Linked DNA regions of Homo sapiens. The protein of the gene in region 1 interacts with the protein of each later gene in a biochemical or structural test. Each region holds a gene or a part of one and is shown on either strand. Other genes may lie near its edges. The genes, in order: KAT7, ING4, CDK11B, HAP1, ORC2, H4C6 and CDC6.

Region 1 (3,500 bases):
TAAATTAGGTATTTCCTGAAATCTGATTTTTATATCATATAATATGGAAGATTTTCAAATATTCAGAATGTTTATTTGATTCTCAGATTTATTCAGACTCTTTGTTTTCTCCTTCTATTACTATTTCTTGCCCTTTTGGCTATTTCATTGGTTTGTGTCACTCAACAACCAGAAACGAAAAGGAAAAAAGGCATAAATGGTAAGCAGTTCACATCAATAAAAATACCCGCTTTCACACAGTAAAACCATTTTACTTTATCTCCACGGCCTGCCATCTGTATCAGTGCCCCACCTTCTGACCCCATTATTTCCTGTGCACTGATATTTCTACCAATCGCCGCCAATCACCTCCCCTCCATGACTCTAGCCCTATGCAGTCAAGTGTGCCAGGGTCTGGAGAACCTGAGTCAAAGCAACAGTTCTGGGCCCTGAACTTACAGACCACATGCTCCTGAACTGGGAACATAAAAAAGCAGTTATCACCAACCAAACTGGGGAGAAGAGTATAATGACAGAAATCACAGGAAACCTGGGTCATAGATGCTCAACATATGGAAATCCTGGGAAATAAAAAAGGAAGGGGAAGGAAAAAGAGACACCCCAGAGGCCTTAGAGCCAAATTATATTGTGATTATGAGAACAAGGGCTGGGCACAGTGGCTCATGCCTGTAATCCCAGCACTTTGGGAAGCTGAGGTGGGTGGATCATGAGGTCAGGAGATCAAGACCATCCTGGTCAATATGGTGAAACCCTGTCTCTACTAAAAATACAAAAATCAGCCAGGTGTGGTGGTGTGCGACTGTAGTCCCAGGTACTCAGGAGGCTGAGGCAGGAGAATCGTTTGAATCTGGGAGGCGGAGGTTGCAGTGAGCCAAGATCGCGCCACTGCACTCCAGCCTGGTCAACAGAGCAAGACTCCCTCTCAAAAAAAAAAAAAACAAGAAAAAGTCTTCTCTGCCTGAAAGGCTAATCTCTACTCCTTCCCCTGTTCCGCACCCTTGCTCCATGGCAGAAATTCCCCTTAAGACAAAGCTTATTCTGTAACAGAGCGGGGGAAAAATGGCTTTTTTTTTGAAGCTGCAAAAAATCTAGTAAACCTATTTGTCAACAATAACAGATTCAACTCCTTATACCTGTTTTATTAGGAAAAAGAGGGGAAGGCACCAAAGGACCCACTCTGCTACTTTCATAATCTGTCACAGGCTGATCACTATTAAATATTAATAAGTACCCATTCAACATATACTTCTTGGGCATCAGTTGTCCACACTAGTTGCTAGGGATATGAAGGTGAGCCATGCTGTCTCTGCTGTGCCTAATGAAGTCTGTATTTTCATCTAGTTTGGGACACACAAAACCTGTGGGCAGAGGTAATTCATATTCCAAGGAGGAAATGAAGAGCAGTAGGCAGCAAGAACAAAAGACAAGAAGATGTACATGACAGGATGTGGGTAAGGGCCCTCAGCTGCTTTGGGTGGCACCCAGCACAAGCCATACCTCAGGCTCTATACCCCGCCTTAAGCTGTGGCCTGTCATTTCCTATGCCTTCATCCCACTGCTGAGGACCACTGAGAAGGTGCCTGAACAGATGCCATCGCTATGGCAAAATCTAGAGATCCTACAGCTTATTGCCATCATGGTCAAGGCAGAGGAACCCAAGACAACTCACCATGTGCCGGCGGAGTATCGTTTGGCTCTTCATATATTTTAAACAGAATTCACACATATAGAGACGTCCCAGCCGTGCATATTCTTCAGGATATGGAGAATGATACCAGGTATCAAGCTCATAGCGGCCAAAAGCAATTGTTTTAATCATGTTGCTTCCCTCTGTGATTTGGCCTTGCAGCCTTAACTTCTCCTATTGCCAAGAAATCAAAAGTCAAAGGAGGATCAGAATTTATTATCTTTGCTTTTAGACAGGGCACAGTGGCTCCTGTAATCCCAACACTTTGGGAGGCTGAGGCAGGCAGGTCACTTAAGGCCAGGAGTTCGAGACCAGCCTGGCCGAAATGGCAAAACCCCATCTCTACTAAAAATACAACAATTAGCAAGGTGTGGTGGCAAACAATTGTAATCCCAGCTACTTGGGAGGCTAAGGCAGAAGAATCGCCCAAGAGGCAGAGGCTGCGGTGAACCGAGATCGCACTACTGCACTCCAGCCTGGGAGACAGAGCGAAACTCCTTTTTAAAAAAATAAATATTATCTTTGTTTTTAAAAGTGTGTGTGCATGCCACCACGCTAGGCTATGAAAAAAATCAGACAGATTTGGCTTCTATCCATGAGAATTTACACTAAAGAGAGCTACATGAAAAATCACACAGGTGTACAGAAAACTTACTACCCATACTGCCCAGAGCACAGGTCTCAAAAGAGAGGTTTCTCTGCTACCTCCCACATTCTGGGCCTCACCAGAATGATACCTTGGAAACTTCATTTTTATCAGCCTAGACCAAACTGAATTATAAAGAAAATCATCACAGATACAAACTCCCCACCCTTATAAAGTATTCTAAAACTAAACAAAAAACTTGATTTAGAATCTGCCTTACTTATCTGCAGAAGCTTTTATAAAGCTATATGAATCTCCGTGAAATATATCCACAATGGTCACTTAGAAAAAAAAACAGGCCCTTTAAAAAATATTTTTGAAATGTGCATGATAATTCTAGAATCTAAACTCTAGAAGGCAGAAAATATTTCTGGGATGGGTGTAGTGGCATGCCTGTAGTCCCAGCTACTCAGGAGGCTGACGTGGGAGAATCGCTTGAGCACTGAAGGTCGAGGCTGCAGTGAGCCATGATGGCACCACTGCACTCCAGTTTGGGCAACAGGGCAAAACCCTGTCTCAGAAAAAAAAAAAATTCGGATATCCATCTCCATTCAGTGGCTCTGAGTTGGCTACAAAAGTATAATTTGTAAGCATAACCAGGTGTAAAGTTGTAAAAGGCTAGCCCAGGAAATGCTCCATGCCAGAATAGGATAGAGAAAACCAGCAGCAGTAACAGCCCATCCCAGCCAAGGGTAGCCAGCAAACCCTGCCTCTGCCAAGTTTTCAACAAGTCTAGTATTTGATACAATTTTTTTTTAATACAAGGGGGAAGGGGGTGAAGACGAGATTCACTTTAAAACTGAGCTTCCCTGAACACATTTAATCTGTTATATCAGAGGTAAACTCAATCACCAGAATTTTCTTCAAGCAAAGTTGTTAAAAATTCTGCCTAGGACAGCAACTCAGTATAAACTAGCTCTAAATAAATATCAGAATGGAAAACCAATGTATCAAACTTGGCTGTGTCAAAGATTAATTCTAAAACATCTGACAACAGCCTTTTCCATTATTCCTCTTCACTGTTATTTTCATTCTTAGTGCAGAGGAAACCTAGCAAAAGGGGAGTTCCTGTTGGGATTAAGAAAACAACAGAGATGAGTCTCTCCTAGGCTACAGGTTCTCAGAATTGCAAATTGCCCAGCTGAGACAAAGGGGCGCCTATGGTTT
Region 2 (4,849 bases), on another chromosome or scaffold:
AATGCTTCTGTAAGTGTGAACGGTATAGAGATCCCATTGTCAATTACTGCTTTTTTTTCTTTCCTCTTTCTTTTTTCTTTCTCTTTTTAAGGACTTCTCATATAGCAAACCTCCCATCTACCAACATATGTTGCAGTCTAAAGTCACACTGGGAATTTGTGACAGTAACATTAACAATGAGAGAAGTAGAAACATTCTAGTCATCCTATAAATATATCAAACGTGGAGAGCAGAAATGACTCGAGTTGACTTTCTTTAATTCTTCTTTTTTTTTTTTTTTGAGACAGAGTCTTGCTCTGTTGCCTAGGCTGGAGTGCAGTGACATGTGGCATGATTTGGGCTCACTACAACCTCCACCTCCCAGGTTCAAACGATTCTCACGTCTCAGCCTCCCAAGTAGCTGGGATTACTGGTGCGTGCCACCACACCTGGCTAGTTTTTGTATTTTTAGTAGAGATGGGGTTTCACCATGTGGCCAGGCTGATCTCAAACTCCTGGCCTCAAGTTACCTGCCCGCCTAGGCCTCCCAAAGTGCTGGGATTACAGGTGTGAGCCAGCCTGGCTAATTATTCTCCAGGAAGACATAAAGAACACAGCATCTTTGAATTCTTGAGGCGTTTTCACAATACTCTATTTGTTATGAAAAAGCTGACACAGAAATGAGGATCATTATCCTGTTTTAAGAATTCCAAGAGCGTAAAAAAGGAGCGAGAGAAGCCACAGTTCTCCAGATCATACCAGATGATACGGTAACATCAAGTAGAAAAATAAATGATTACACACACTCATTAGATACAAAAACTTTTTACTCTATACATACCCTCTGTTCTTTGGTCTAGGTCCCTCATGAGCTGAAAGTTTCTCTGTAATTCAAAGGGAAGGTTTTCAATACCTAGGGAAGAGAGAGAAACAATCACAGGACTGACTATGCATAGGCCTTACAGCTCCTTTTAAAGTGCAGTTCAGGCCGGACATGGTGGCTCACGCCTGCAATCCCAGCACTTTGGGAGGCCAAGGGGGTGGATCACTCAAGGCCAGGAGTTCAAGACCAGCCTGGCCAACATGGCGAGACCTCCATCTCTATTAAAAATATGAAAATTAGCCTAGTGTGACGGTGGGCATCTCTAATCCCAGCTACTTGGGAGGCTGAGGCATGAGAATCACTTGAATCCAGGAGGCAGAGGTTGCAGTGAGCCGTGATTGAGCCACTGCACTCCAGCCTGGGCAATAGAGCAAGTCCCTGTCTCAAAAACAAACAAATGGCCAGGCATGGTGGCTCACACCTGTAATCCCAGCACTTTGGGAGGCCGAGGAGAGCAGATCACGAGGTCAGGAGATTGAGACCATCCTGGCTAACATGGTGAAACCCCGTCTCTACTAAAAATACAAAAAATTAGCCAGGTGCGATGGCGGGCGCCTGTACTCCCAGCTACTCAGGAGGCTGAGGCAGGAGAATGGCATGAACCTGGGAGGCGGAGTTTGCAGTGAGCCGAGATCGCACCACTGCACTCCAGCCTGGGCGACACAGTGAGACTCCATCTCAAACAAACAAACAAACAAACAAAAAATAAAGTGCAGCTCAGTTTTCCTTCCTCTGAACCTCTGGATTTATCTGTGACAGGATGGATCAGTTCTCTCATGACAGGCCATGCTTAACTCTTTCTCTACAAAACCTTTCCATTTCTGCATGGCTATCCCACCCTTTTCGCCTTCAGTGACCTTCCTTTATAAATAAGCTCTTCCCGTCAGGTGTGGTGGCTCAAGCCTGTAATCCCAGCACTTTGGGAGGTTGAGGCGGGTGGATCACGAGGTCAGGAGTTCGAGACCAGCCTGGCCAACATGGTGAAAGCCTGTTTCTACTAAAAATATAAAAATTAGCCAGGTGTGGTGGCACGTACCTGTAATCCCAGCTATTCAGGAGGCTGAGGCAGGAGAATCACTTGAACCTGGGAGGCAGAGGTTGCAGTGAGCCAAGACTGCACTACTGCACTCCAGCCTGGTGACAGAGCGAGACTCTGTCTCCAAAAAAAAAAAAAAAAGCTCTTCCCTTTCTTTTCCTTTTTTGTTTTTTGAGACGGAGTCTGGCTCTGTTGCCCAGGCTGGAGTGCAGTGGCACGATCTTGGCTCACTGCAGCCTCCACCTCCTGGGTTCAAGTGATTCTCCTGCCTCAGCCTCTGGAGTAGCTGGGACCACAGGCGCGCGCCACCACACCCGACTAATTTTTGTATTTTTAGTAGACACAGGGTTTCACCATTTTGGCCAGACTGGTCTTGAACTCCTGGCCTCAGGTGATCCGCCCGCCTTGATCTCCCAAAGTGCTGGGATTACTGGCATGAGCCACTAAGACGGGCCCCTTTCTTTTATTTTCCATCTCTGCCTCCAAGCTCTTTGTCCTCAAATTACAAATAGTCTCCTGGTATCCTCTATTATACACATAACACTTCCAATCTACTTCCATATAGTAGCCAGAATGTCCTTTTTAAAAAATGCAAACCTGGCCAGGCACGGTGGCTCATGCCTGTAATCCCAGCACTTTGGGAGGCCCAGGTGGGCGCATCAGCTGAGCTGAGGAGTTCAAGACCAGCCTGGGCAACATGGTGAAACTCTGTCTCTACCAAAAATACAAAAACTTAGCCAGGCTTGGTGCACATGCCTGTAATCCCAGCTACTTGGGAGGCTGGGGCACAAAAATCCCTTGAACCTGGGAGGTGGACATTTCAGTGAGCCGAGATCACGCCAATGCACTCCAGCCTGGATGACAGAGCAAGACACTGACTCAAAAAAACAAAAACAAAAACAAACACAAAAATAAAAAATGCAAACCTAATCAAGTCACTCTCCCGCTTATAACCTTCTGGTCACTTCCTACTGCTCTGAAGATGTTCTGCGCTTTCTGGCCCTTGCTTACCTCACACCAGCCTGAACTCATGTCAGTCTCCCTTTGTGCTCTGCTTTGCCCATACTGGCCTCCTCGCACTGCCTCAAACTGGCCTGTGCTCCTCCTGCCATTTGGCTTTCCACATGCTGTTCTCTCTAGTTGGAATGCACCGCTCGCTTTTCCTCATCCCATCCACCCCATCCCTCTTGGCCTATTAAATTCCTGTTCGTTCTTCCAAAGTTCAGCTCAAACTCAACTTTCCCAGACTCTGTTAACTGCCCTCGATCTATGTCAAGGTATTCTAGCCACCTTTTTAAAGCACTTATCCAACTGTAATTAAATAAATGTGTAATTAGTTGGCTGGGTGCGGTGGCCCATGCCTGTAATCCAGCACTCTGGAAGGCAGGTGGATCACTCAAGGCCAGGAGTTCAAGACCAGCCTTGGCAGCCTGGCAAAACCCCATCTCTACTAAAAATACAAAAATTAGGGCCAGGCACGGTGGCTCATGCCTGTAATTCTAGCACTTTGGGAGGCCGAGGCGGGTGGCTCACTTGAAGCCAGGAGTTCAAGACCAGCCTGGCCAACATGGTGAAACCTGTAATCCCAGATACTTGGGAGGCTGAGGCACAAGAATTGCTTAAATCCGGGAGGTGGAGGTTGCAGTGAGCTGAGATCGCACCACTGCACTTCAGCCTGGGTGACAGAGTGCGACTCCATCTCAAAAACAAAACAAAACAAAAATTAGGCCAGGCGCGGTGGCTCACACCTGTAATCCCGGCACTTTGGGTGGCCGAGGAGAGCAGATTACGAGGTCAGGAGATTGAGACCATCCTGGCTAACATGGTGAAACCCCGTCTCTACTAAAAATACAAAAAAATTAGCTGGCCGTGGTGGCGGGCGCCTGTAGTCCCAGCTACTCGGGAGGCTGAGGCAGGAGAGTGGCGTGCATCCAGGAGGTGGAGCTTTCAGTGAGCCGAGATCGCTCCACTGCACTCCAGCCTGGGCGACAGAGCGAGACTCTGTCTCAAAAAAAAAAAAAAAAAATAGATGGGCATGGTGGCCTGTGGCTGTAGTTCCAGTTACTCAAGAGACTGAGGCAGGACAATTGCTTGAACCAGGGAGGTAGAGGTTGCAGCCCGGGCAAAAGAGCAAGACTGTTTCAAAAAACAAAAAAATTAAAAAAAATAATGTGTAATTAGTTATTTGGTATCTGTCTCCCCAGGCCGAACATGGCTATCATATTCTCTCCTGTTTCCATAGTGTTTAGAATTATGACTTGCAAAGAGCAGGTACTCAGTAAATACTTGAATAAATGCATGAATATTTGTCACCCCAGTACAAGAGAAATCTCTTGCCAAGACTCCACCTAAAACTTTAAAAATGCCTCTACTTGCTGGGCACAGTGGCTCACGCCTGTAATCCCAGCATTCTGGGAGGCCAAGGCAGGTAGATCGCTTGATCTCAGGAGTCTGAGACCAGCCTGGGCAATATGGCCAGATCCTGTCTCTATAAAAATTAAATATATATATAAAAAATAAAAGGCCTGGTACGGTGGCTCATGCCTGTAATCCCAGCACTCTGGGAGGCCAAGGTGGGTGGATCACCTGAGGTTGGGAGTTTGAGACCAGCCTGGCCAACACAGTGAAACCTCATCTCTACTAAAAATACAAAAATTAGCTGGGTATGGTGGCGGGCACTGTAATCCTAGCTACTCAAGAGGCTGAGGCAGGAGAATCACTTGAACCCGGGAGGCAGAGGTTGCAGTGGGCCAAGATCGCACCATTGCGCTCCAGCCTGGGTGACAGAGTGAGACTCTGTCTCAAAAACAAACAAACAAACAGAAAAACTAAAATAAAATAAATAAAAAAAAATAAAATGCCTCTACTGTTTAAACCTACAACTTCAGGTCTGCTACCACCAGTTCACAAGACTGAGTCACTGGTGATTTACCAAATCTAATGGTGTTATT
Region 3 (3,860 bases), on another chromosome or scaffold:
GAGTAGCTGGGATTACAGGCGTGCGCCCTGTACTCCCAGCTAATTTTTGTATTTTTAGTAGAGACGAGGGTTTCACCATGTTAGCCAGGATGGTCTCAATCTCCTGACCTCGTGATCCGCCTGCCTCCGCTTTTCAAAGTGCTGGGTTTACAGGCCCGAGCCACCGTGCCCAGCTGCCATTTCCAATTCTAATTAATAAATGATCCATTTCTTTCCATTCGATCGGTGTTTGCTTCATGGATTTTGGGCTCTGTGGTTAGATGCATTCACACGTATCATTGCTGTATCTTCCTGCTGTATTGGCCTGTTTCTGGCTGTGAAGTCCTTGCTCCTTCTTGTTTCTAGCTTTTTTTTGAGACAGGGTCTTGGTTTGTCACCCAGGCTGGAGTGCAGTGGCGCAATCTCGGCTCACTGCAACCTCCATCTCACGAGTTCAAGTGATTCTCATACCTGAGCCTCCCGAGTAGCTGGGATTACAGGTGTGCGCCACCACACCCAGGTGATTTTTGTAGAGACAGGGTTTCACCATGTTGGCCAGGCTGGTTTCTAATATTTCTTAACATCTGTTTTGTCTGGTATGAGTACAGCCATTCAAGCTCTCCTATGACAGCTGATGTTTGTACGCTGCGTCTTTTCCTGTTCTCTAGCAGACAGCATACAGTTAGATCTTGTTTTTCTATCTGATAATCTGCCCTGTCTGTTTGGGGCACAGAGACCTTTCACATGTCATATAATTACACGTACAGTTGGATTTACTTTCCTTGCTTTGTTGTGTCTTTTTTATTCTTCCCTTTTTGATTTTAAATTACATATGTTTAGCATACCATTTTAATTTATTTGTACTTTTTAAAACACTAAGAAAACAACTTTCTTAGTGGTTGCTCTAGGGATCACCGTATGCCTCATGATACTAGCTCAAGTCCAGTACAATATAAAACTGTTGTAACACAGCTTTATTCCCTGTCTTCTTTGTGCAGTCCATTTATGCCACATACCATGACAACAGTGTAATTATTTTATACAATCGTAGTTCCAGTAAAACCTAAGATGTGAGGAGAGATAGTTACAGGATATTGACGTCAACCTACACTTGCTATCTGCAGTGCCTGTCCTTCCTTCCTGAGGATTCAAGTTACCGTCTGGTGTCATTTCTATTCAACTTGAAGGTCTTCCTTTAGTATTTCCTTTAAGGCAGGTTTCGCCAACAATGAATCCCACCAGTCTCTGCTTCTCAGGGAATGTCGTTCGTTCCCTTTCACTTGTGTAGAACGGTTTTGATTCCTGGCTGATGGTTCTTCTCTCTGAGCAGCTTGAGTATGCCACTCCACTGCCTTCTGGCCTCCATTGTTTCTAAGAAGTCAGTGGCTGGCGGTATTGAAGCTCCCCTTTCATGGGATGGGTCATTCTTCTCTGAGGCCTTTCAACATTTTCTCTTTGGCCTTTGCCAGTTTGACTATGATGTGACTTTGCATTTATTCTAGTTCAAACTTCCTGTGCTCTTGAATGTGCATATTTTTTAATTAAAATTTGGAAAGTTTTTAACCATTATTGTAACAAATATCTTTCCTCTCTCCTGGAACCCCCATTCGACGTGCTTTGGTACAGCAGATGTTGTACCACGGGTTTCTGAGGCTCTGTGCATTTTTCTTGTTTTTTTCTCTCTGTTCTTCAGAATGGATAATTTCTACTGCTCCATCCACAAGTTGTTTCCAAGCCTTTACTAAATTCAACATCTGGACACTCAGACAGTTTTTACTGATGATGTTCTTCCTCAGTATGGGTCACACTGTCATACTTCTTTGTATTTTAGATAATACATTTGTAGCAATTCTGGATTCTAAGTTTTCCCTTTCGTTGTTACCACCGAGGCCTGTCTGGTTGTCCGTGAAATCCATCTCCCTCACAGCTCGTGGCCACCCCGTTCCTTCCCACATGCCTATTTTAATTTTCAACCTTGGCTTCCTAGGGGTCACCACCATGGCTGCACAGCTTAGCAATTAGCCAGCACTGGAAAAAGGCTGGGCTCAAATACCTCGAGCACAGTAAGGCTTCCTTGGCCCACGGCTGTGTGTGGACAGGGAGCACACTGAACGTTCACGCGTCATTCGCATCTGTGGCGGCTTCTATTTTCTGCCAGGTCCTTTCACGCAGCTGCATCCTCAGGGCTGGTCACAAGTGGGTGGCGGCTCGAGCTCTCTCCAGTCTCTGCTGCACGTCTTTGGCGAGATCACAGCTGCTCCCAACCACACTGTACTTCATTCTAGCAGACCTCTTGGCCTTTTCTTCCTCCCTCCACTGAGGATGCTGGTGGGCAAGGCCACTGCCCACTGCTCTAAACGGAGTAACCCCTTCCAAGGCAGCAAGGAAACTGCAGGTCCTGCAGCTGCCCTGTCCCAGTGGAACCTCCGTGCTTCCCAAGTGCAGAGTGGAAGCAGTAAAGGGAGCAGCTCTCAGGCCAGAAGGTCAGATTCTTACTGCTTTCACCCACAGCTCAGCAGTTTTCCAAGCATCAGTGCTTCTCAGATTATCCTTATCAGTTTCCTTTTTGTCAGAGACAAGGTCTCCCTACGTTGCCCAGGCTGGCGTCATGCGGTCCTCTGGCCTTAGCCTCCCACGTAGCATATGCTACCATACCCAGTTCTGGATTGGCTGATCTGAATCGGCCCTACCCAGAAGTCTGCCCCCAACAATTTTTGCTCATTCACTCTCCTGTCTTTACCTTCTGGGAAATCAATATGACAGCCCAAATTTCATCTACCAACCTCCACTTCTATCCCAAGCTGTACTCTCGTGGGACAAGACACACTCAATGTCTGGCACAGGGTGTGGCATACATGAATGTTTCACACACTAACAGGAACTAGGCCAACTGAAACCTTGCTCACCCCGCAGCGGTCTCGGACCTTGACCCCTGGGCCTCAGTGTCTCCCACACCCTTCGGCATCAACAAGAACCAGCGCCCTCTCATCATCTTTACATGCTGTGTACCCAGCCCTGGCTGCTGGCAAACATCGCTGCCCTTCCGCTTCAGACTCCTCTCTTCCTGGAGCAGCTTGCAAGCTTTCTGTGGACTCACTCTGAAGGCGGAGATGGGCCTGCTCCCACCTGGCCTACAGCCTTTTTCCTGGTTCACGGAACAGATCTGGGGCTACACCGATGTTCTTTCTTGGGAATCTGGCTCATAAAGGGGAACGAATATATAAACTAATGGCCAGGAGTCCTGGGAGTCCAGGGTCCCGAATTCCAGACTGTTTCAAGGTTTTTAGGATCTCCCTTCTCCTTTTTTTGAGACAGTCTCACTCTGTCAACCAGGCTGGAGTGCAATAGCATGGTCATAGCTTACTGCAGCCTTGACCTCCAGGCTCAAGGGATCCAACCACCTCAGCCTCCTAAAGTGCTAGGATTACAGGCATGAGCCACCGCGCCCGGCCGGACATGCAGATTTCTGATCCCTTCATTGTCTTCCCTCAATCAAATCACACCCGTTCTTACTTCCAGATGCAGTGAAAACTCACTCCCTCAGGACAGTTCTCTTGGTCAGCCTCGTCCAGCGTTCACTGTGCTGTTTCCATGTCTACCACTTCTGCACCAAATGTGACTTCTTCTTTTTTTTTTGAGACGGAGTCTCGCTCTGTCGCCCAGGCTGGAGTGCAGTGGCGGGATCTCAGCTCAATGCAAGCTCCACCTTCCGGGTTCACGCCATTCTCCTGCCTCAGCCTCCCAAGTAGCTGGGACTACAGGTGCCCGCCACCATGCCCAGCTAATTTTTTGTATTTTTTTAGTAGAGACGGGGTTTCACCATGTCAGCCAGGATGGTCTCCATCTCCTCACCTCATGATCCGCCCACCTCGGCCTCCCAA
Region 4 (4,849 bases), 8.1 Mb from region 1:
CAGGTAGAGCCAGGCTGGGGCAGGTGAGCACTCGGGGAGCTTATCCACCCTCTCTTTTCATCGGCACGACGATCTGCAGCTTGTCCGGCTGGCGGCAGGGAGGGCCCCGTGGGGGCACTCACCTTTCTGGAGCATCTTCCACCTCAGCTGCCGCCTGTAATGGGCATCTTGCCAGTTGGCCAGCTGCTGGAGGACATAATTCATGTCCAGGTGTGAAGGGCCCAAGCCGCTGGCCTCCAGGGCTGATGTCACCACGTTCATCCGCGTTGCCTCATCCAGCTCCAGTTCCACCTCCTCCCAGCCCTCGGTCTCCTCTGACACCAGCTCTGCCTCTTCCATCACCCCTTCCTCAGCCGGCACCTTCTTGGCAGCCCCCAGCTCCTCCTGGGGCACGAACTCCTCCGCAGGCGTGAAATCTTCCCCCCGCATGATATCCGCTGCCAGCATCAACCCTTCCTCAGCCTCAAACCCCCGCACCTGCTCTCGATCCTCACTGTAGCGAAAATCATACCTGGGCGGGAGATAGCGACATCTTTTGAGGGGCTGGAAAGTCCAACCCCCCAGGCCCACCCCCACCCGTCTCCACACAGATCCTGATGGTTCCTCCTGGTTCTGTCCCAGCCAGGGGAGAGGGGAGCTAGGTACCAGCTCCAAGGCTTCAAATACCCAGCCCATCCCCCTGGTGGGAGGGAGGAAGAATGGTCACCAACACTGCATAGGCCCCATCTTCTTTTATGTCCCTGACCCTGCACGGAATACACCAACAGGGTTAACACCCACTTCTGCCTCCCTCCTGCATGATTTAACCTTCATAGCCCACCCCACAGCTACTTGCCATAGGAACAAATCCATTCTAGACAGGCTCAGACAGGTCAAATGACTTGCCCAAGGACACACAGTCAGGAAAGGGACCACGCTGGGCCTTAGTCCCAGGTGTTCCCAGCTCCTAAGCCAGTGCCTGTCACCTCTCAGCCCATAGTCAGTTGAAAAGAAAGCTTCAGTCCCCACTCAGAGCTGCCTGGAATCAGACGGCCACCCAGGGGGCAAGATTTGAAGGAAAAGTGGGGCAGCTCCTTCCCAGAACAGTTCTCAGTTCAGCCAGCCGAGATAGCAGGGCCTTCTCCGGAGTTGCAGGGTGGCAGAACCAGAGGCAGGTGGGCTGTCTGGCTGCTGAAAGCTGAGGGCAGGTTGTAGGGGAGCCCCTGGCAGGCTTACCTTAGGCTGGATGTGTCCCCTCTGGGCATCTCATAATTCCTTCAAAGAGAAAAGGACCTTCATTATGAGACAATGGAAGCCGAAACTGCAGTCCCTGGGGCTTGGTCAAGCTGAAGAACCTTAGGTAGTGGCCATGAGCAGTGGCTCACGCCTGTAATCCCAGCACTTTGGGAGGCCGAGGTGGGCAGGTCACCTGAGGTCAGGAGTTCAAGACCAGCCTAGCCAACATGGTAAAACCCCGTCTCTACTAAAACTACAAAAATTAGCTGGGCTTGGCCAGGTGCAGTGGCTCACGCCTATAATCCCAACACTTTGAGAGGCCCAGGCGGGTGGATCACAAGGTCAGGAGTTCAAGACTAGCCTGGCCAACATCTCTACTGGCCCATCTCTACTAAAAATACAAAAATTAGCCGGGCGTGGTGATGGCCACCTGTAGTCCCAGCTACTCAGGAGGCTGAGGTAGGAGAATCGCTTGAACCCAGGAGGCGGAGGTTGCAGTAAGCCGAGATCACGCCAACCTGGACAACAAAACAAGACTCCATCTCAAAAAACAAAAAAAAAATTAGCCAGGCTCGTGCCTGTAGTCCCAACTACTTGGAAGGCTGAGGCAGGAGACTCGCTTGAACCCAGGAGATGGAGGTTGCAGTGAGCCAAGATCTCGCCACTGCACTCCAGTCCAGGTGACAGAGTGAGACTCGTCTCAAAAAAAAAAAAAAACCTCAGGCTGGGCATGATGGCTCACGCCTGTAATCCCAGCACTTTGGGAGGCTGAGGCGGGCAGATCACCTGAGGTCAGGAGCTTGAGACCAGCCTGGCCAACAGGGTGAAACTGTGTCTCTACTAAAAATACAAAAAGTAGCCGGGCGTGATGGCACATGCCTGTAATCCCAGCTACTCGGAAGGCTGAAGCAGGAGAATTGCTTGAACCTGGGAGGCAGAGGTTGCAGTGAGCCAAGATCATACCATTGCACTCCAGCTTGGGTGACAGAGCAAGACTCCATCTCAAAAAAAAAAAAAATACCTCAGGGGGAAGTGATGGGTCCATATTCATAGAGAAGCAATGAGTGGAGGGGCTGATGCAGTGAACGAGGCGGGTATAGGGAAGCGTGGAAGGTCAGAGTGTGAGGGCAAACCCCCTCCCCACTACAGGAAAGGCCATGGCCTATGGGGCAAGGGAGGGCCCCAGCCACGCACCTCTCCATAAAATACACAGGGTCTGAGATCATCCTCCTTAGAGACGTTCTGAGCTCCTCAGCCAGCGTCTCCTGGAAACCAGGAAGAGTCTCCTATGGTGGAGAGAACAGACGTTACCAGAGGACCCCCACAGAACCCCCACCCATAGGCTCAGGCACAGAAGGGAACTGGGATCTCAATCAGCCACCAAGGCTGAGACACAGGCACAGACGTAGGAAAGTGGGCAGCCAGGGGAGGGTCCTCACCAGAGGCACGCTGTATGGGTAATGGGTGGCAGACCCAGTGGACACTGGGGGTTGCTGGCGGAGGGTCTTCACCTCCTCCTGCATCTCAATCAGCATGCCCCCACAATCCATGTACTTCTCCCGCAGGTCCTGCAGCTGGGAACCCACCCACACGCTCTGCTGGGACCCAGGCACACCCAGTCCAGCACTCCTGCCTATCTGCTCTCAGGCTGAGGCCAGAGGCCCAGGTTCTGGACTCCAAGTGTCATGTGGGGGACCCAGGGCAGGTCCCTGCACTCCACACCACTCAGACCTTGATGGAACTGTCACCTGCTGGGCTGTGCCAGGCATGGAGGGGGTGGAAACGGACAAGACTCAGTTCCTGCTAGTCCTCTCCAGAGTCAGGTAGCTGCCAAGGGCCTGGGGTCCCCACTCTGGGCCAGCGGCTCTCCAGGGTGGGGGCAGAAGCCGGCAGCGAGACTCACCTCTTCCTGGAGCTGCATCTGGATTTCCTTCTCCGAAGCCAGCTGCTTCTGCAACTTTTCAGTCTCAGCCCCATACTGGAAGGACCCAAAACCAGTGAACCCCCATCTGAGGCCTACCCACTCAGGGCACCCCCTGCTTCCAGCAAGTCTTCCCAGGCACATCAGTGAGTCCTTGGCAGCCCATGAAATGACAAGTCACACGGAAGGAGGGCAAAGAAGGCAGGGGAGTCACGCAGCCTGGTTCCTAGAAGACTCCAGGACCCTCTCTGGGCCTTGGTCTCCTCAAGATAACAAGGGGTCAAGATAAGGGGCTCTCTGAGGTCTCTGACTCTGACACAGAAAGGGACCTCAGGCCTGGTGGAGCCGAGTGGAGGCAGGAAGAAGGAAGCTAGGGTCCCATGGGGCCACGACAAGAGGGTTCCACACACACCCGACTCACCATCCGGCAGCGCTGCTGCAGCTTCAGCACCTGGGCCTGCAGCCGAGCGACCTCCTGCTGCTGCCGTTCATAGTTTTCCAGCCTGAGCACCAGCACCTCCGACAGCTCAGCCATCTGTTGGCTGGCCTCCGCTGGGGAGGGCAGAGGACAGGTCAGCCCTGGCTCCCCTGGCCTTCAGGGACCAGCTCTGGCCCTCCCAGATGCCTCTGTCTCCCCCACCCTCGGCTGCTGCGCTGTGCCAGTGGGTCCTGCAGGGCTTTGCATTCCTCACTCAGGTCTTCCATTCAAGAAATGTTCATTGACTGATACTGAGCAGGGCACCAGGGTGAGTGGTCAGTAAGACCCAGCCGCCACACTGAGGTAAAGTTGGTGGGGAGACAGACCACAGTCACACATCATACAGGCCATGATGGGCAAATGTCAAGGGTGTACAGGGCAGGGGCATCACAGCTACAGCACCCAACCCGACCTGCAAGGTAAGGAAGGATTCCTGGAAAAAGGAACCACTAAGCTAAGACCACAGGGCAAGTGAAGCTCACCCAGGCAAAGAAGGAAAAACATGGGTCCAAGCTGACTGGAAAGGCCCAGAGGCCATCATAAGACACTGGGACGGGGAGGGCCCAGAACAGTGCACACAGGCCAGACCACAGTAGTGGGCAAGGGGGTGGGGTTTATCCTTTGGCCAATGGAAAGCTATTTGGGAGTTTTAGGCACAGTAATGACGTGGTCAGACTTGGGTTTGTTGGTTTATTTATTTATTTATTTGAGACCGAATCTCTGTCGTCCAGGCAGGAGTGCAATAGTGCAATCTTGGCTCACTGTAACTGCCGCCCGAGTCCAAGCGATTTTCCTGCCTCAGCCTCCCGAGTACTTGGGATTACAGGCATGCGCCACCACGCCCAGTTAATTTTTGTATTTTTAGTAGAGACGGGGTTTCACCATGTTGGCCAGGCTGGTCTCAAACTCCTGACCTCAAGAGATCCACCTGCCTCTGCCTCCCAAAGTGCTGGGATTACAGGGGTGAGCCACTGCACCCGGCTACTTGTTTTTTAAGAAATGAGGTCTTGGGACAGGCACAGTGGCTCATGCCTGTAATCTCAGCGCTTTGGGAGGCTGAGGGGGATGGATCGCTTGAGGTCAGGATTTCAACACCAGCTTGCCCAACATGGTGAAACCCCATCTCTACTAAAAATACCAAAATTAGCTGTGCATGGTGGCGCATGCCTGTAATCCCAGCTACTCGGGAGGCTGAGGCAGGAGAATCGCTTAAACTCGGGAGGTGGAGGTTGCAG
Region 5 (4,849 bases), on another chromosome or scaffold:
AACTAGCCAGGCATGGTGGTCCGCACCTGTAGTTGCAGCTACTCAGGAGGCTTAGGTGGGAGGATCACCTGAGCCCAGGGAGGCTAAGGTTGCAGTGAGCCTTGATTGTGCCACTGCACTCCAGCCTAGGTGACAGAGTGAGACCCTGTCTCAAAAAAAAAAAAAAAAAAAAAGGCAATACTGTTCAACCAGCTGATCTCCAACAAACTTACATTCAAAGACTCAAGTCCTACATCAAAATCAATCACTACTGCATTAGTTACACTAATAAAAAGTTACAAACAATCCAAAAGTATAATATAGAAAACCACACATTATTTATATATTAGAATGCAATACTACTAGCTATTACAGTTCTTTTTGTCCGAAGACTGACCTCTGAGAATTTAACGATATGTTAAATTTAAAAGAAAATAAAACCACCGCCTCATATCCATTAAAAGGGCTACTGTTTTTTTTTTTTTTTAAAAAAGGAAATAGGTGTTGGTAAGAACGTGGAGAAATTGGAACCCTTGTACACTGTAGGTTGATATGTAAAATGGTGCAGCCACTGTGCAAAAAGTATGGTGGTTCCTTAAAAAATTAAAAATAGAATTAGCACATGATCCAGCATTTCCACTTATGGGTATAAACCCCAAAGAATTGAATGCAGGGTCACAAAGAGGTATTTGTACACCCATGTTCATAGCAGCATCATTCGCAATACCCAAAAGGTTGAAGCAACCCAAGTGTCCATCTACAGATGAATAAATTTCAGTTTTGTACAATGAGAAAAGTTTGGGAGATTGGTTACAAATGGTGTGAATGTACCTAATGCCACTGAACCCATACACTTTAAAAATGGTTCAGATGCTAAGCTTTTTTGTGTGTGTATGAGATAAATTCTTGCTCTGTCACCCATGCTAGTGTGCAATGGTGTGATTGTGGCTCACTGCAGCCTCAACCTCCTGGGCTCCAGTGATCCTCCCACTTCAGCCTTCTGAGCAGCTAGGACTACAGGTGCATGCCACCACGCCCAGCTAATTTTTGTATGTTTTTTGTAGAGATGGGATTTGGGATTTCTTTCTTTCTTTTTCTTTTTTTTTTTTTGAGATGGATTTTCACTCTTGTTGCCCAGGCTGAAGTGCAATGGTGTGACCTTGGCTCATTGCAACCTCCATCTCCCGGGTTCAAGCGATTTTCCTGCCTCAGCCTCCCGAGTAGCTGAGATTACAGGCACCCACCACCACGCCCAGCTAATTTTTTGTATTTTTAGTAGAGACACGGTTTCGCCATGTTGGCCAGGCTGGTCTTGAATTCCCGTCCTCAGGCGATCCACCCGCCTTGGCCTCCCAAAGTGCTGAGATTACAGGCATGAGCCACTGCACCTGGCCAAAACTAAGTCTTTAGGAAAATGTAACTATGATTAAATAGTGTAATCTGTATAAACTTTAGGAGGATATTTGGCAATACATGTCAAAACTCTTATTGTAGAAGAATGTCTAATGACAGAGTAATGTATATATGATACATTATTAATTGCAAAAAGTCTATTTATAAACGTAATGGTGCAAGCTTATGTGTGCCCATGCATGTATGAACAGACAGAAGATACACACTGAAATGTTAACGGTTCCACGTTCTCTAAAGCAGGCATTCTTGACAGGTACAATACATCTCCCAATTGGGTAAAACTGGATCTTGGCACAGGAGGGAGTGTGGAAAAAAGACTTTGACATTATTAATATAATAGTCTGTGGCCCTCCAAAGCGTCACAGTACATAAACAGATATACAGCATATATGTAGTACTGAAATTTTTAGGGTGGGAAAAAGTGATTAGGAGAAAATGTCTAAAAAGGCTAATTAGGGGTCAATAATTTTAAAAAGGTTGAAAAACATAGGGCATGATGCCAAAAAATAAGGCAAAGTTCCCCAGTGTGAGGAATGAATGAATGAATGAATGAATAAATAAATAAATAAATAAATAAATAAATAAATGGTATGGGTTTCATATGTGCTGAGTACTGATTCTCTCAGGCCTTTGAGGATGCCAATCAAGGCCAGTAGCAGGGGTAGGGTTAGGGCCCTGGGGTATTTGTCCTTGGTCTGCAGCATCCTCTTCTATTTATTCCATTGTGCCTCCAAATATCATTTGCTGTGAGTGCTGTTATGTGAGAAAGGTTGGAAGCACTGAATTTCTACAACAAACATACTACTTTTTTAAGAGACAATTTTTATGATAAAAGTTTCCTTTGTGGAATACTGTTATCAATCTCTTCTTAGGCCTGGCATAATAGGGAGTCAAGAACACCAAGTTTTATTTAGAATATGCTCAAAAAATGTCAACTGTCTAGCTGTGGACACATAGGAGACCCTACCCAGCCCACTAAATCTATTGAGGAGCAGTGGTCATTTTTTGTATAACTCTATACATGGAGTATATGACTCTACCCCCATAGTTAATGAACTATGTAATTATGTTCATTAATATAATAAGTAATAGGCACAGATAACTCAACTGTGATTCATCTGTGGATATTCCAATTATATGCTATTTCTATGTCCAGATTTTAAAAATGAATTGAGCTAAATTGACTCTTGAGAATCTAGAATGGGAGAACTGAAAAACCAAATCACTTAACACTGGGAACTTGATGGACATTTATAAGTATGTGAGAATAAAACACATGTACATGAAGAAAATATGTGGCATAGAGAAATCAGAACAGATGCACAGAGATGACACAGGGAGACCTGGAGACTCATGAAAGCACAGTTCCTCAGTTTTTAACACTGTCCCAGTTCCAACTCTCCTAGTACCCAACAATATTGATTTCTTTCCTTTGTCATTATTTTTTTAAGCTAGGTTGTGGGGATCTGTGTTCCTTGTACCCAGGAAAAACCTAACTAAAATATAATTCGAACCTAAAAAAATGTTTTATGTTAAGAATAATCTTGCAGGAATCTGGCTTAGATGTAAAAATTAAAACCACACACATAATACCAGCATCCCTGGGTTAGAACACTACTTCTTGAAATGCTCCTCCTAGTTCTGTAAAGATCAAGGTAAGAATAAAGTAACTTGCTTTAGAAAGGTATTTTAAATAAGTTAAAAATATAAATATCTTTTTTTTGTTCTGTTTTGACCTAGGGTCTCGCTTTGTCACCCAGGCTGAGTATAGTGATGCAATCACAGCTCACTGTAGCCTCAACCTCCTGGGCTCAAGCAATCCTCTGCGTTAGCCTCCCAAGTAACTAGGACTACAGGCACACGCCACCATGCTCAGCTAGTTTTATTTTTTTTTTGAGACAGGGTCTCACTCTGTTGCCCAGGCTGGAGTGTAGTGGTATGATCACGGCTCACTGCTGCCTCAACCTCCCAGGCTCAAGTGATCCTCCCACCTCAGCCTCACTCATAGCTGGGACCACAGGTGTGTGCCACCATGCCAGGCTAGTCTCAAACTCCTGGACTCAAGCGATCAATCTGCTTTGGTCTCCCAATATGCTGAGATTACAGGCATGAGCCATCACACACCCAGCTTCCAGCTAATTAAAAACTTTTTTTTTTTGTAGAAACGGGATCTTACTATGTTGCCTAGGATGGTTACAAACTCCTGGGCTCAAGCAGTCCTCCTGCCTCAGTCTCCCAATGTACTGGGATCACAGGCGTGAGCCACCATGTCTGGCCATAAATAAATACCTTAAAAATAGTACTAGCTACTCAGGTGGCTAAGTTGGGAGGATCTCCTGAACCCAGAAGTTGGAGGCTACAATGAGCTATGATTGTGCCATGGCATCCCAATCTGGGTGACTGAGCAAGACCCTGTCTCTAAAATAAATAAATAAATAAATAAATAATCTTGAAAATAACTTTAGGAGTACTATGCAGCCATAAAAGGAATGAGATCATGTCCTTTGCAGGGACATGTATGAAGCTAGAAGTCATCATCCTCAGCAAACTAACACAGGAACAGAAAACCACACACTGCATATTCTCACTCATAGGTGGGAGTTGAAAAATGAGAACACATGGACACAGGGAGGGGAACAACATATGCCACAGCCTGCGGGTGGGTGGAGGGAGGGAGAGCATAAGGACAGACAGCTAATGCATGTGGGGCTTAAAACCTAGATGATGGGTTGAAAGGTGCAGCAAACCACCATGGCACATGTATACCTATGTAACAAGCCTGCACATTGTACACATGTATCCTGGAAAAATTTTAAAAATAAAATAACTTTAGAGTGGTTGGTCTATAGATTCCTTCTTACTGAAAACTATGTGCAGGACTGGTTGTTAAAAAAAAGAACTATGGAGAAATTGAAGCAAATGCTTTTTAGATGAGAAACATGATCATATAGAACACCACTGTTTAACCTACCAGACTACTTTTGTGTATCCTATAAAGCAATTTCTGCTACTAGCAGAAACGAGTGTATATTTCACCCCCTCAAATACCTTGAACATCTCTTCCCATAATTTCCACATAGTTCTGATCTTTTAAGACCTCCTGGTCATCTTCCTCCAAATCATATTCTGGCTTCTTTATTATTTTTTTGGGGTTGACCAAAAGCTGCGCTCGCTCCTTCTTCAATTTAGCTCCTATAAGAACATCCAAAGAAATAGAGCATGACAGGTATAAATTCTTTCTAAACATTACATTTAAATAAGAAATTATAATATTTATATTGTCATTACTTAAAAGCTGGGAAAAAAGCTTTCTCTTTGATTAAAACTGACCACTCTGACCACTCTTCCACAGTTTATATAGTTAAAAAAAAAAACACACACAATCTTGAAAGTATATATTTTTAGGGTTCAAAATAACCACATATTTTAAATTACAATGGGTAGTTATTAGTGACTA
Region 6 (3,399 bases), on another chromosome or scaffold:
ACATTTATGAACTAAATACTACATCCTGAGGATACTAAATTAAAGACATTGTTCAAGACCTGAAAATATCTTGGGAAGAGGGCAAGAATTACTCCCAACTATTTAAGTGTGCAGTAGCTCCTAAGTCGTATAGGGAATTCTGAAGTAGGGCTAGGGACATGTGTAGAGTGTGCTTCGTGAATTGTAAGGAAACCCCAGACACCGATTTTGCCCATAGGAATCAGGTAAAGGCTTCTTGAAGAGGAAACCCCAAGTTGAAGAATATTTGTGGAACAGTGTATGTAATGAATTACCATTGACAAAAAAAGAACAGATGAGAAGCCACTTCTTCGGTATGGTGAAAAAATGAAAACGTTAGGAGTCAGGATCGCGGGTGATAACCGGGTAGGTTGACAAAGCACAAGGAGAAACACTTTGGGTTATAAATTACCAGTACTTGAGAAATAAAGCAGTAAAATTATCAATGACCTGAAATCACAGTAAGTGCCCCAACAAAGAATTCACTGGGTAAGACAAAAACTTGGGCTTTTTTTTTTCTTTTTGAGACGGAGCCTTGTTCTGTGCCCCAGGCCTGGAGTGCAGTGGCGCGACCTCGGCTCACTGCAACCTCAGTCTCCCGGGTTCAAGTGATTCTCCTGCCTCAGCCTCCCGAGTAGCTGGGACTACAGGCGCGTGTCACCACGTCTACGTCTAATTTTTGTATTTTTAGTAGAGACGAGGTTTTGCAGTGCTAGCCAGGCTGGTCTCGAACTCGTTGAGCTCAAGTGATCCACCCACCTCGGCCTCCCAAGCTGCTGGAATTACAGATGGGATTGCAGACATGAGCCACCGAGCCCGGCCAAACTTTACTTTTTTTTTTTTTTTTTTGAGGCATGGTCTCTGTCGCCCAGGCAGGAGTGGAGTGGCACCATCTCAGCTCACTGAAATCTCCGCCTCCCGTGCTCAAGCGATTCTCCTGCCTCAGCCCTTGCAGATTAGCTGCGACAGCAGGCGTCCGCCACAACGCCGGGCTAACTTTCCTATTTAACTTTTTTAGTTGAGACGGAGTTTCACCATTTTGGTTGCCCAGGCTAGTCTCGAACTCCTGAGCTCTAGTAATCCGCCCGCCGTGGTCTCCCAAGGTGCTGTGATTCAGGCCTGAGGCACCGCGCCCGGACACAAGTAGTGGATTAAGTTTACCAGTAATTGATCTGTCCACAGCCGCCCTAAGATTACTCACGTTCTATGCCTAATAAATAACACTAAGGCCGGGCACGGTGGCTCACGCCTGCAATCCCTGCACTTTGGGAGGCCAAGAAGGGCGGATCACCTGAGGTCGGGAGTTCGAGACCAGCCAGACCAACACAGAAAAGCCCCTTCTGTACTAAAAATAAAAAATTAGCCAAGCGTGGTGGCGCATGCCTGTAACCCCAGTTACTCGGGAGGTTGAGTCAGGAGAACCGCTTAAACCCGGGAGGGGGTGGTTGCGGTGAGCCGAGATTGCGTCATTGCACTACAGCCTGGACAAGAGCAACTCCATCTCAAAAACTAAACATGTAATGCTAGTGTAGTTAAGTCCCAGCCACCTAACATAGGAGTAAATTTCAGAAACGTGGGAATAAAACACATCACATACGTCATAAAAGGCTGCTGGTATTCCCAAACCATTTCCACCATCTTTTCCTGTGAATGTTTGCGATCGAAATACCTGAACAAGTTTCTAATGTTTCGCCTTCCCTTTCTCCTTAGCACATCCGCCATCTTAGGAAGATCGCTAAAAACGGCTCGGTTTAACTCAGTTAGAATCCCAAATTTACAAAACGAAACCCAAGTCGTCATCAGTTACAGCCCTTCGTGTGACGAAGGAGGTGGCCCTGAAAAGGGCCTTTTATGGGTGAGCTGTTAAATAAAAAGCCGGGGTGAGGCTCAGCCACCAAAGCCGTACAGAGTGCGTCCCTGGCGCTTGAGCGCGTAGACAACATCCATTGCAGTGACTGTCTTACGCTTGGCGTGCTCCGTGTAGGTTACGGCGTCCCGTATCACATTCTCCAGGAACACCTTAAGAACACCGCGGGTCTCCTCATAAATGAGGCCCGAAATGCGTTTCACGCCGCCGCGTCGGGCCAAGCGACGGATGGCGGGCTTCGTGATGCCCTGTATGTTGTCACGCAGCACTTTGCGATGGCGCTTGGCGCCTCCCTTTCCTAAACCTTTACCACCTTTGCCTCTACCAGACATGATCGAAGACAAACAACAACTCTTAACTTTTGCAACTTTGCTACACACTGAAGCCCCTTATATATCAATTATGCGGACCTTTTTGGAGACTGAATTGGAGGGGCGGGAACGAAACCTCTGTCTCCGCCTTTTCCGTAACTTACTGGGCGTCCCCTACACTATTGCCTTGGGAAGGAAAGGGGGCGGTGAGGGTAGGGGAAATGCAAGTTGATTTGACTCCTTCCTGTTTCCTTGTTTGGGTCTTGAGTGTAGGTTTCTGTGTCTTCTAGTCCAGTGCCTGTGGGCTCTCGAACTGATAATGTCTGTCTCCTAAAATCCTTATTATTTGCAAAAAGGAGGCAGTAACGCTACACTTGTCTACCGAATGGATAGACAAGAGAATAAAATTATTATTTCTTTTGAAACAGTTTTGCTCTGCCCCAGACTGGAGTGCAGTGGCGTGATCTCGGCTCACTGCAACCTCCGCCTCTCGGGTTCGAGCGATTCTTCTGCCTCAGCCCCTGCAGTAGCTGCAACTACAGGCGCGCGTCACCACGCCCGGCTAATTTTTGTATTTTTAGTAGAGATGGGGTTTCGCCATGTTGACTAGGCTGGTCTCGAACTCCTGACCTCAGGTGATCCACCCGCCTCGGCCTCCCAAAGTTCTGGGATTACAGGCGCCTAGCTTTAATTTTTAAATGTGAAGATTCTTTGAAAATGTATTTTTACTAATTTTTTTTTTTTGATACGGGGTCTCACTCTGTTGCCCAGGCTGGAGTGCAGTGGCGCTATCTCGGCTCACTGCAACCTCCGCCTTCTGGGTTCAAGCGATTCTCATGCCTCAGCCTCACGAGTAGCTGTGATTTCAGGCACGCGTCGCCACACCTGGGTAATTTTTGTATTTTCTTAGTAAAGACGGGGTTTCGCCATGTTGGCCAGGGTGGTCTCGAACTCCTGACTTCAGGTGATCCACCCACCTTGGCCTCACAAAGTGCTGGGATTACTGGCGTGAGCCACCACGCCCGGCCATTTTTATTAATTCTTAAAATGTAGCAATACTTCTTAAATTTGGCCAATCATGAGACTTAGCGTTTGGCAGAGACATATACATTCACATCGTTTTTGGCATTCCTAATAAAGAAAGACCTCTAGTAAGGGAAACCAATATTAATTGAAGTTTCATTCTTAGTTTTTCAATGTATA
Region 7 (4,849 bases), 9.5 Mb from region 1:
AAAGCCCTGCCTCTCAGCCCCAGGAAACGTCTGGGTAAACCATCCATTATATCACTTTTTCACTAGCAGCTCGTGACCTTTCTTTTCTTGGTAAGATGTGTGTCCTTTGAAGGAGCTTTCTAAGTTCAGTTAAGACTTCTTTTTTTTTTTTTTTTTTTTTTTGAGACAGAGTCTCGCTCCATCTCCCAGGCTGGAGTGCAATAGTGCGATCTTGGCTCACTGCAACCTCCGCCTCCTGGGTTCAAGCGATTCTCCTGCCTCAGCCTCCCAAGTAGCTGGGATTACAGGCGCCCACCACCAAGCCTGGCTAATTTTTTTTTTTTTTTTTTTTGGATTTTTAGTTGAGACAGGGTTTTGCCATATTGGCCAATCTGGTCTCTGAACTCCTGACCTCAGGTGATCCAACTGCCTCGGCCTCCCAAAGTGCTGGGATTATAGGCATGAGCTACCGCTCCTGGCCTAAGACTACTCTTCATTTTAGTTATTTTCAGAATGGTTGCTAAGTGCTTACCGAACTCCAGAGTTAGACACTTACTGAGGTCACTCTGAACTACTTAATAAGTCTGATCTTCAATTCCTTAATACTGAACTTAGTTCTGTCAATGTTTTAAGTTACCTTGTAGTTACATGGTATTATGAAACTTACCTCAATATTTGTGAAATTAAAAGAAACAAAAACGTGACATGATGAATATTTTCCATCCTTTAGGACAGTGATTGGTAATTCTTTCTTGTTTTGGAACATTTATTTTTAAATGGGGGGTAATTTGGTTGTTTCTGGAGACATTTTTGGTTGTTACAGCTGGGGGTTGCTACTGGCATAGTGGGTAGAGGCCAGGGATGCTGCTAGACATTACAATGCACAGGACAGCTCCTTGACAATGAAGAATTATTTGGTCCAAGATGTCAGTGGTGCCAAGGTTGAGAAAACCTGTTTCAAAATAGCCTTACAATTTCATCCTACTAAAACCCATTTGGTTTCTACTAAATGCAGTAGTCCCCACTTATCCATGGGGGATACATTCCAAGACCCCCAGTGGACGCCTGCAATCGAGGACAGTACCAAACCCTACATATACTGTGTTTTTGATTTGATAACCAAGTCAGCTACTAAGTGACTAGTGGGTGGATAGCATATACAGTGTGGATATGCTGGCTGAAGGGATGATTCATGTCTTGGGTAGGATGGTGCGGGATTTCATCATGGCACTCCACAGCATGCAATTTAAAACTTGTCAATTGTTTATTTCTGGAATTTTCCATTTAGTATTTTCAGACTGAGGGTAACTAGAACGGTGGATGAAGGGACTACTGTAGTAAGATCAGTGGTGCCATCTGGTGACCAATATTTGCTGCTAAGTGAGAAGGCATTTTATTTTGGTGGTTCTGACTAAGGTAGAAATTCACCTCTTTCTGGAAGAGGCAGAGGTCTTGCACATCCTTTTACTATCCAATGCTATGAGTGACTACATTTTTATTTTATTGTGTTTCAGGCGATGACAACCTATGCAACACTCCCCATTTACCTCCTTGTTCTCCACCAAAGCAAGGCAAGAAAGAGAATGGTCCCCCTCACTCACATACACTTAAGGGACGAAGATTGGTATTTGACAATCAGCTGACAATTAAGTCTCCTAGCAAAAGAGAACTAGCCAAAGTTCACCAAAACAAAATACTTTCTTCAGTTAGAAAAAGTCAAGAGATCACAACAAATTCTGAGCAGAGATGTCCACTGAAGAAAGAATCTGCATGTGTGAGACTATTCAAGCAAGAAGGTTTGTTCTTACATGGCAACTGTTAGTGCAGCCATTGTAACCAAGGCTGATGACTCCAAATGAAACCACCCACTGGGTCTTCTCATTCACCTTCTGTTGTGTCTAATTGACCTTTTATGTCTGGCACAGGCACTTGCTACCAGCAAGCAAAGCTGGTCCTGAACACAGCTGTCCCAGATCGGCTGCCTGCCAGGGAAAGGGAGATGGATGTCATCAGGAATTTCTTGAGGGAACACATCTGTGGGAAAAAAGCTGGAAGCCTTTACCTTTCTGGTGCTCCTGGAACTGGAAAAACTGCCTGCTTAAGCCGGATTCTGCAAGACCTCAAGGTACATTGAGAGTCTGAATTATGATACTCTTGGTAAAATGATACTTGGGTGTTTTTGTTTGTTTGTTTGTTTTGTTTTGTTTTGTTTTGTTTTTTGAGACGGAGTCTCGCTCTGTCGCCTAGGCTGTAGTGCAGTGGCGCGATCTCGGCTCACTGCAAGCTCTGCCTCCCAGGTTCACGCCATTCTCCTGCCTCAGCCTCCCGAGTAGCTGGGACTACAGGCGCCCGCCACCATGCCCAGCTAATGTTTTTTGTATTTTTAGTAGAGACGGGGTGTCACTGTGTTAGCCAGGATGGTCTCGATCTCCTCACCTCATGGTCCGCCCTTGTTGGCCTCCCAAAGTGTTGGGATTACAGGTGTGAGCCACCGCACCTGGCCTGTTTTGTTTTTGAAACAGGGTCTCTGTTGTCCAGGCTGGAGTGCAGTGTTGTGATCTCAGCTCACTGCAGCCTTGACCTCTTGGGCTCAGGTGATCCTCCCACCTCGGCCTCCTGGATAGCTGGGAATACTGGCACTCACCACTACACCCAGCTAATTTTTTGTAGAGACAGGGTTTCACCATGTTGCCCAGACTTGTCCTGAACTCCTGAGCTCAAGTAATCTGCCTGCTTCAGCCTCCCAAAGTGCTGGGATTACAGGTGTAAGCCACTGTGCCTGGCTGGCACTTAGTTAAGAAAGAGGGCTAGGCACGGTGGCTCACACCTGTAATCCCAGCACTTTGGGAGGCTGAGGTGGGTGGATCACCTAAGGTCAGGAGTTTGAGACCACCCTGGTCAACATGGTGAAACCCTGTCTCTACTAATAATACAAAAAAAAATTAGCCGGGCATGGTGGCAGGTGCCTATAATCCCAGCTACTCGGGAGGCTGAGGCAGGAGGATCACTTGAACTCGGGAAGCAGAGGTTGCAGTGAGCTGAGATCGCGCTACTGTACTCCAGCCTGGGTGACAGAGTGAGACTCTGTCTCAAAAGAAAAAGAAGGCTGGGCATGGTGGCTCACGCCTATAATCCCAGCACTTTGGGAGGCCGAGGCGGGCGGATCATGAGGTTAGGAGATTGAGACCATCCTGACTAACACAGTGAAACCCCGTCTCTACTAAAAATACAAAAAAAATTAGCCAGGCGTGGTGGCGAGTGCCTGTAGTTCCAGCTACTCGGGAGGCTGAGGCAGGAGAATGGCGTGAACCCACAGGTGGAGCTTGCAGTGAGCCGAGATCGCGCCACTGCACTCCAGCATGGGCGACAGAGCAAGACTCCGTCTCAAAAAAAAAAAGAGTTAAGAAAGAGTAGGCCTGGTGCGGTGGCTCACACCTGTAATTCCAACACTTTGGGAGGCTGAGGCAGGTGGATCACCTGAGGTCAGGAGTTCAAGACCAGCCTGGCCAATGTGGCGAAACCCCATCTCTACTAAAAATATAAAAATTAGCTGGGTGTGGTGGTGCATCCTTGTAATCCCAGCTACTTGGGAGGCTGAGGCAGGAGAATCACTTCAACCCGGGAGGCAGAGGTTGCAATGAGTTGAGATTGTGGCATTGCATTTCAGCCTGGGCAACAGAGTGAGACTCCGTCTCAAAGAAAAAAAAAAGAAAGAAAGAAAAGAAAGAGTAGAAGTTTAGAAGATTGAGGGTTTCTTCAAAATAAAACATTTGTAATTTCATTGTTTAAATCTTTCCAAATGAAAGTAGAGCTTCCTTACGTGCTGTTAGCTCTTCAAAGACATTTTAGGCTCTATCAGATCTTTATTTTCTGAGGCCAAAATAACTCCCATATTTGCATTTTTTTTTCCAGAAGGAACTGAAAGGCTTTAAAACTATCATGCTGAATTGCATGTCCTTGAGGACTGCCCAGGCTGTATTCCCAGCTATTGCTCAGGAGATTTGTCAGGAAGAGGTATCCAGGCCAGCTGGGAAGGACATGATGAGGAAATTGGAAAAACATATGACTGCAGAGAAGGGCCCCATGATGTAAGTATTGTTCTGCTTCATGTTGCTCTGTGAAAATCTGCAAGGTCTGTTGCCCATAAAAAGTACATTTTGTATATTTTCTCTCTGAAGGATAGTTACATAAACTTAAAGGGAAAGAAGAGAAGGAAGATACACCTAATTTTAAATTGGATTACTTATAGATGATGTGGGGTATCCTTGTAGCAGTAACTAGAGATAGGTTAGATTATGATCTTTAAACTGGTCTCAGCTTTAGGAAAGTGACCTGAAGTCAGCCTATATCAAACATTAGAGGGTTAAGAAGGTGAATATGGATACTAACTGTTTCTCTTTTTATAGTGTGTTGGTATTGGACGAGATGGATCAACTGGACAGCAAAGGCCAGGATGTATTGTACACGCTATTTGAATGGCCATGGCTAAGCAATTCTCACTTGGTGCTGATTGGTTAGTGCTCAATTGTTAATGTTACATGGTGGTTCTAAAGTATTTTTTAAGAATATATATTCAGCTTATTTATCAGCTATTTTATCTTAAACCAGCTTTCTGCCGTGTCAAAATAAGAAAGTTAAATGACTATGTACATCTTACCTAATAGATACATCTTATCTATTGGGATGGGGTAGGAGACAAGTGGCAAGCAACAATTAGAATGCTAGATTCTATAACTGGAGATTTATTTAGCTTTCAGAAGATTTAGTTTTCCCTTTAGGATAATTTGACCAATGATCAATGTTGTTGATCTCCTCCTTAGGTATTGCTAATACCCTGGATCTCACAGATAGAATTCTACCTAGGCTTCAA

Evidence for each region.
Region 2: the proteins of KAT7 (region 1) and ING4 form a complex in vitro, tested with the Homo sapiens proteins (one study listed by BioGRID).
Region 3: the proteins of KAT7 (region 1) and CDK11B form a complex in vitro, tested with the Homo sapiens proteins (one study listed by BioGRID and IntAct).
Region 4: the proteins of KAT7 (region 1) and HAP1 form a complex in vitro, tested with the Homo sapiens proteins (one study listed by BioGRID).
Region 5: of the proteins of KAT7 (region 1) and ORC2, one has a biochemical effect on the other in vitro, tested with the Homo sapiens proteins (one study listed by BioGRID).
Region 6: of the proteins of KAT7 (region 1) and H4C6, one has a biochemical effect on the other in vitro, tested with the Homo sapiens proteins (one study listed by BioGRID).
Region 7: of the proteins of KAT7 (region 1) and CDC6, one has a biochemical effect on the other in vitro, tested with the Homo sapiens proteins (one study listed by BioGRID).

The regions. Positions count from the first base shown.
Region 1 is NC_000017.11:49,816,181-49,819,680, reverse strand, and holds part of KAT7 (histone acetyltransferase KAT7), read right to left. Parts: intron 1,862-3,500; coding exon 1,670-1,861; intron 1-1,669. UniProt on the Homo sapiens protein: Catalytic subunit of histone acetyltransferase HBO1 complexes, which specifically mediate acetylation of histone H3 at 'Lys-14' (H3K14ac), thereby regulating various processes, such as gene transcription, protein ubiquitination, immune regulation, stem cell pluripotent and self-renewal maintenance and embryonic development.
Region 2 is NC_000012.12:6,655,907-6,660,755, forward strand, and holds part of ING4 (inhibitor of growth protein 4), read right to left. Parts: intron 894-4,849; exon of another isoform or gene 893-893; coding exon 821-892; intron 8-820; exon of another isoform or gene 1-7.
Region 3 is NC_000001.11:1,645,503-1,649,362, forward strand, and holds part of CDK11B (cyclin-dependent kinase 11B), read right to left. Parts: intron 1-3,860. UniProt on the Homo sapiens protein: Plays multiple roles in cell cycle progression, cytokinesis and apoptosis. Involved in pre-mRNA splicing in a kinase activity-dependent manner. Isoform 7 may act as a negative regulator of normal cell cycle progression.
Region 4 is NC_000017.11:41,724,644-41,729,492, forward strand, and holds part of HAP1 (huntingtin-associated protein 1), read right to left. Parts: intron 3,689-4,849; coding exon 3,558-3,688; intron 3,290-3,557; coding exon of another isoform or gene 3,194-3,289; coding exon 3,119-3,193; intron 2,790-3,118; coding exon of another isoform or gene 2,655-2,789; intron 2,502-2,654; coding exon 2,410-2,501; intron 1,255-2,409; coding exon 1,216-1,254; intron 512-1,215; coding exon 58-511; 3' UTR 1-57. UniProt on the Homo sapiens protein: Originally identified as neuronal protein that specifically associates with HTT/huntingtin and the binding is enhanced by an expanded polyglutamine repeat within HTT possibly affecting HAP1 interaction properties.
Region 5 is NC_000002.12:200,952,961-200,957,809, forward strand, and holds part of ORC2 (origin recognition complex subunit 2), read right to left. Parts: intron 4,585-4,849; coding exon 4,441-4,584; intron 1-4,440. UniProt on the Homo sapiens protein: Component of the origin recognition complex (ORC) that binds origins of replication. DNA-binding is ATP-dependent. The specific DNA sequences that define origins of replication have not been identified yet.
Region 6 is NC_000006.12:26,239,244-26,242,642, reverse strand, and holds H4C6 (histone H4), read right to left. Parts: upstream 2,251-3,399; 5' UTR 2,218-2,250; coding exon 1,906-2,217; 3' UTR 1,850-1,905; downstream 1-1,849. UniProt on the Homo sapiens protein: Core component of nucleosome. Nucleosomes wrap and compact DNA into chromatin, limiting DNA accessibility to the cellular machineries which require DNA as a template.
Region 7 is NC_000017.11:40,289,565-40,294,413, forward strand, and holds part of CDC6 (cell division control protein 6 homolog), read left to right. Parts: coding exon 1-34; intron 35-1,493; coding exon 1,494-1,775; intron 1,776-1,904; coding exon 1,905-2,104; intron 2,105-3,891; coding exon 3,892-4,067; intron 4,068-4,385; coding exon 4,386-4,492; intron 4,493-4,799; coding exon 4,800-4,849. UniProt on the Homo sapiens protein: Involved in the initiation of DNA replication. Also participates in checkpoint controls that ensure DNA replication is completed before mitosis is initiated.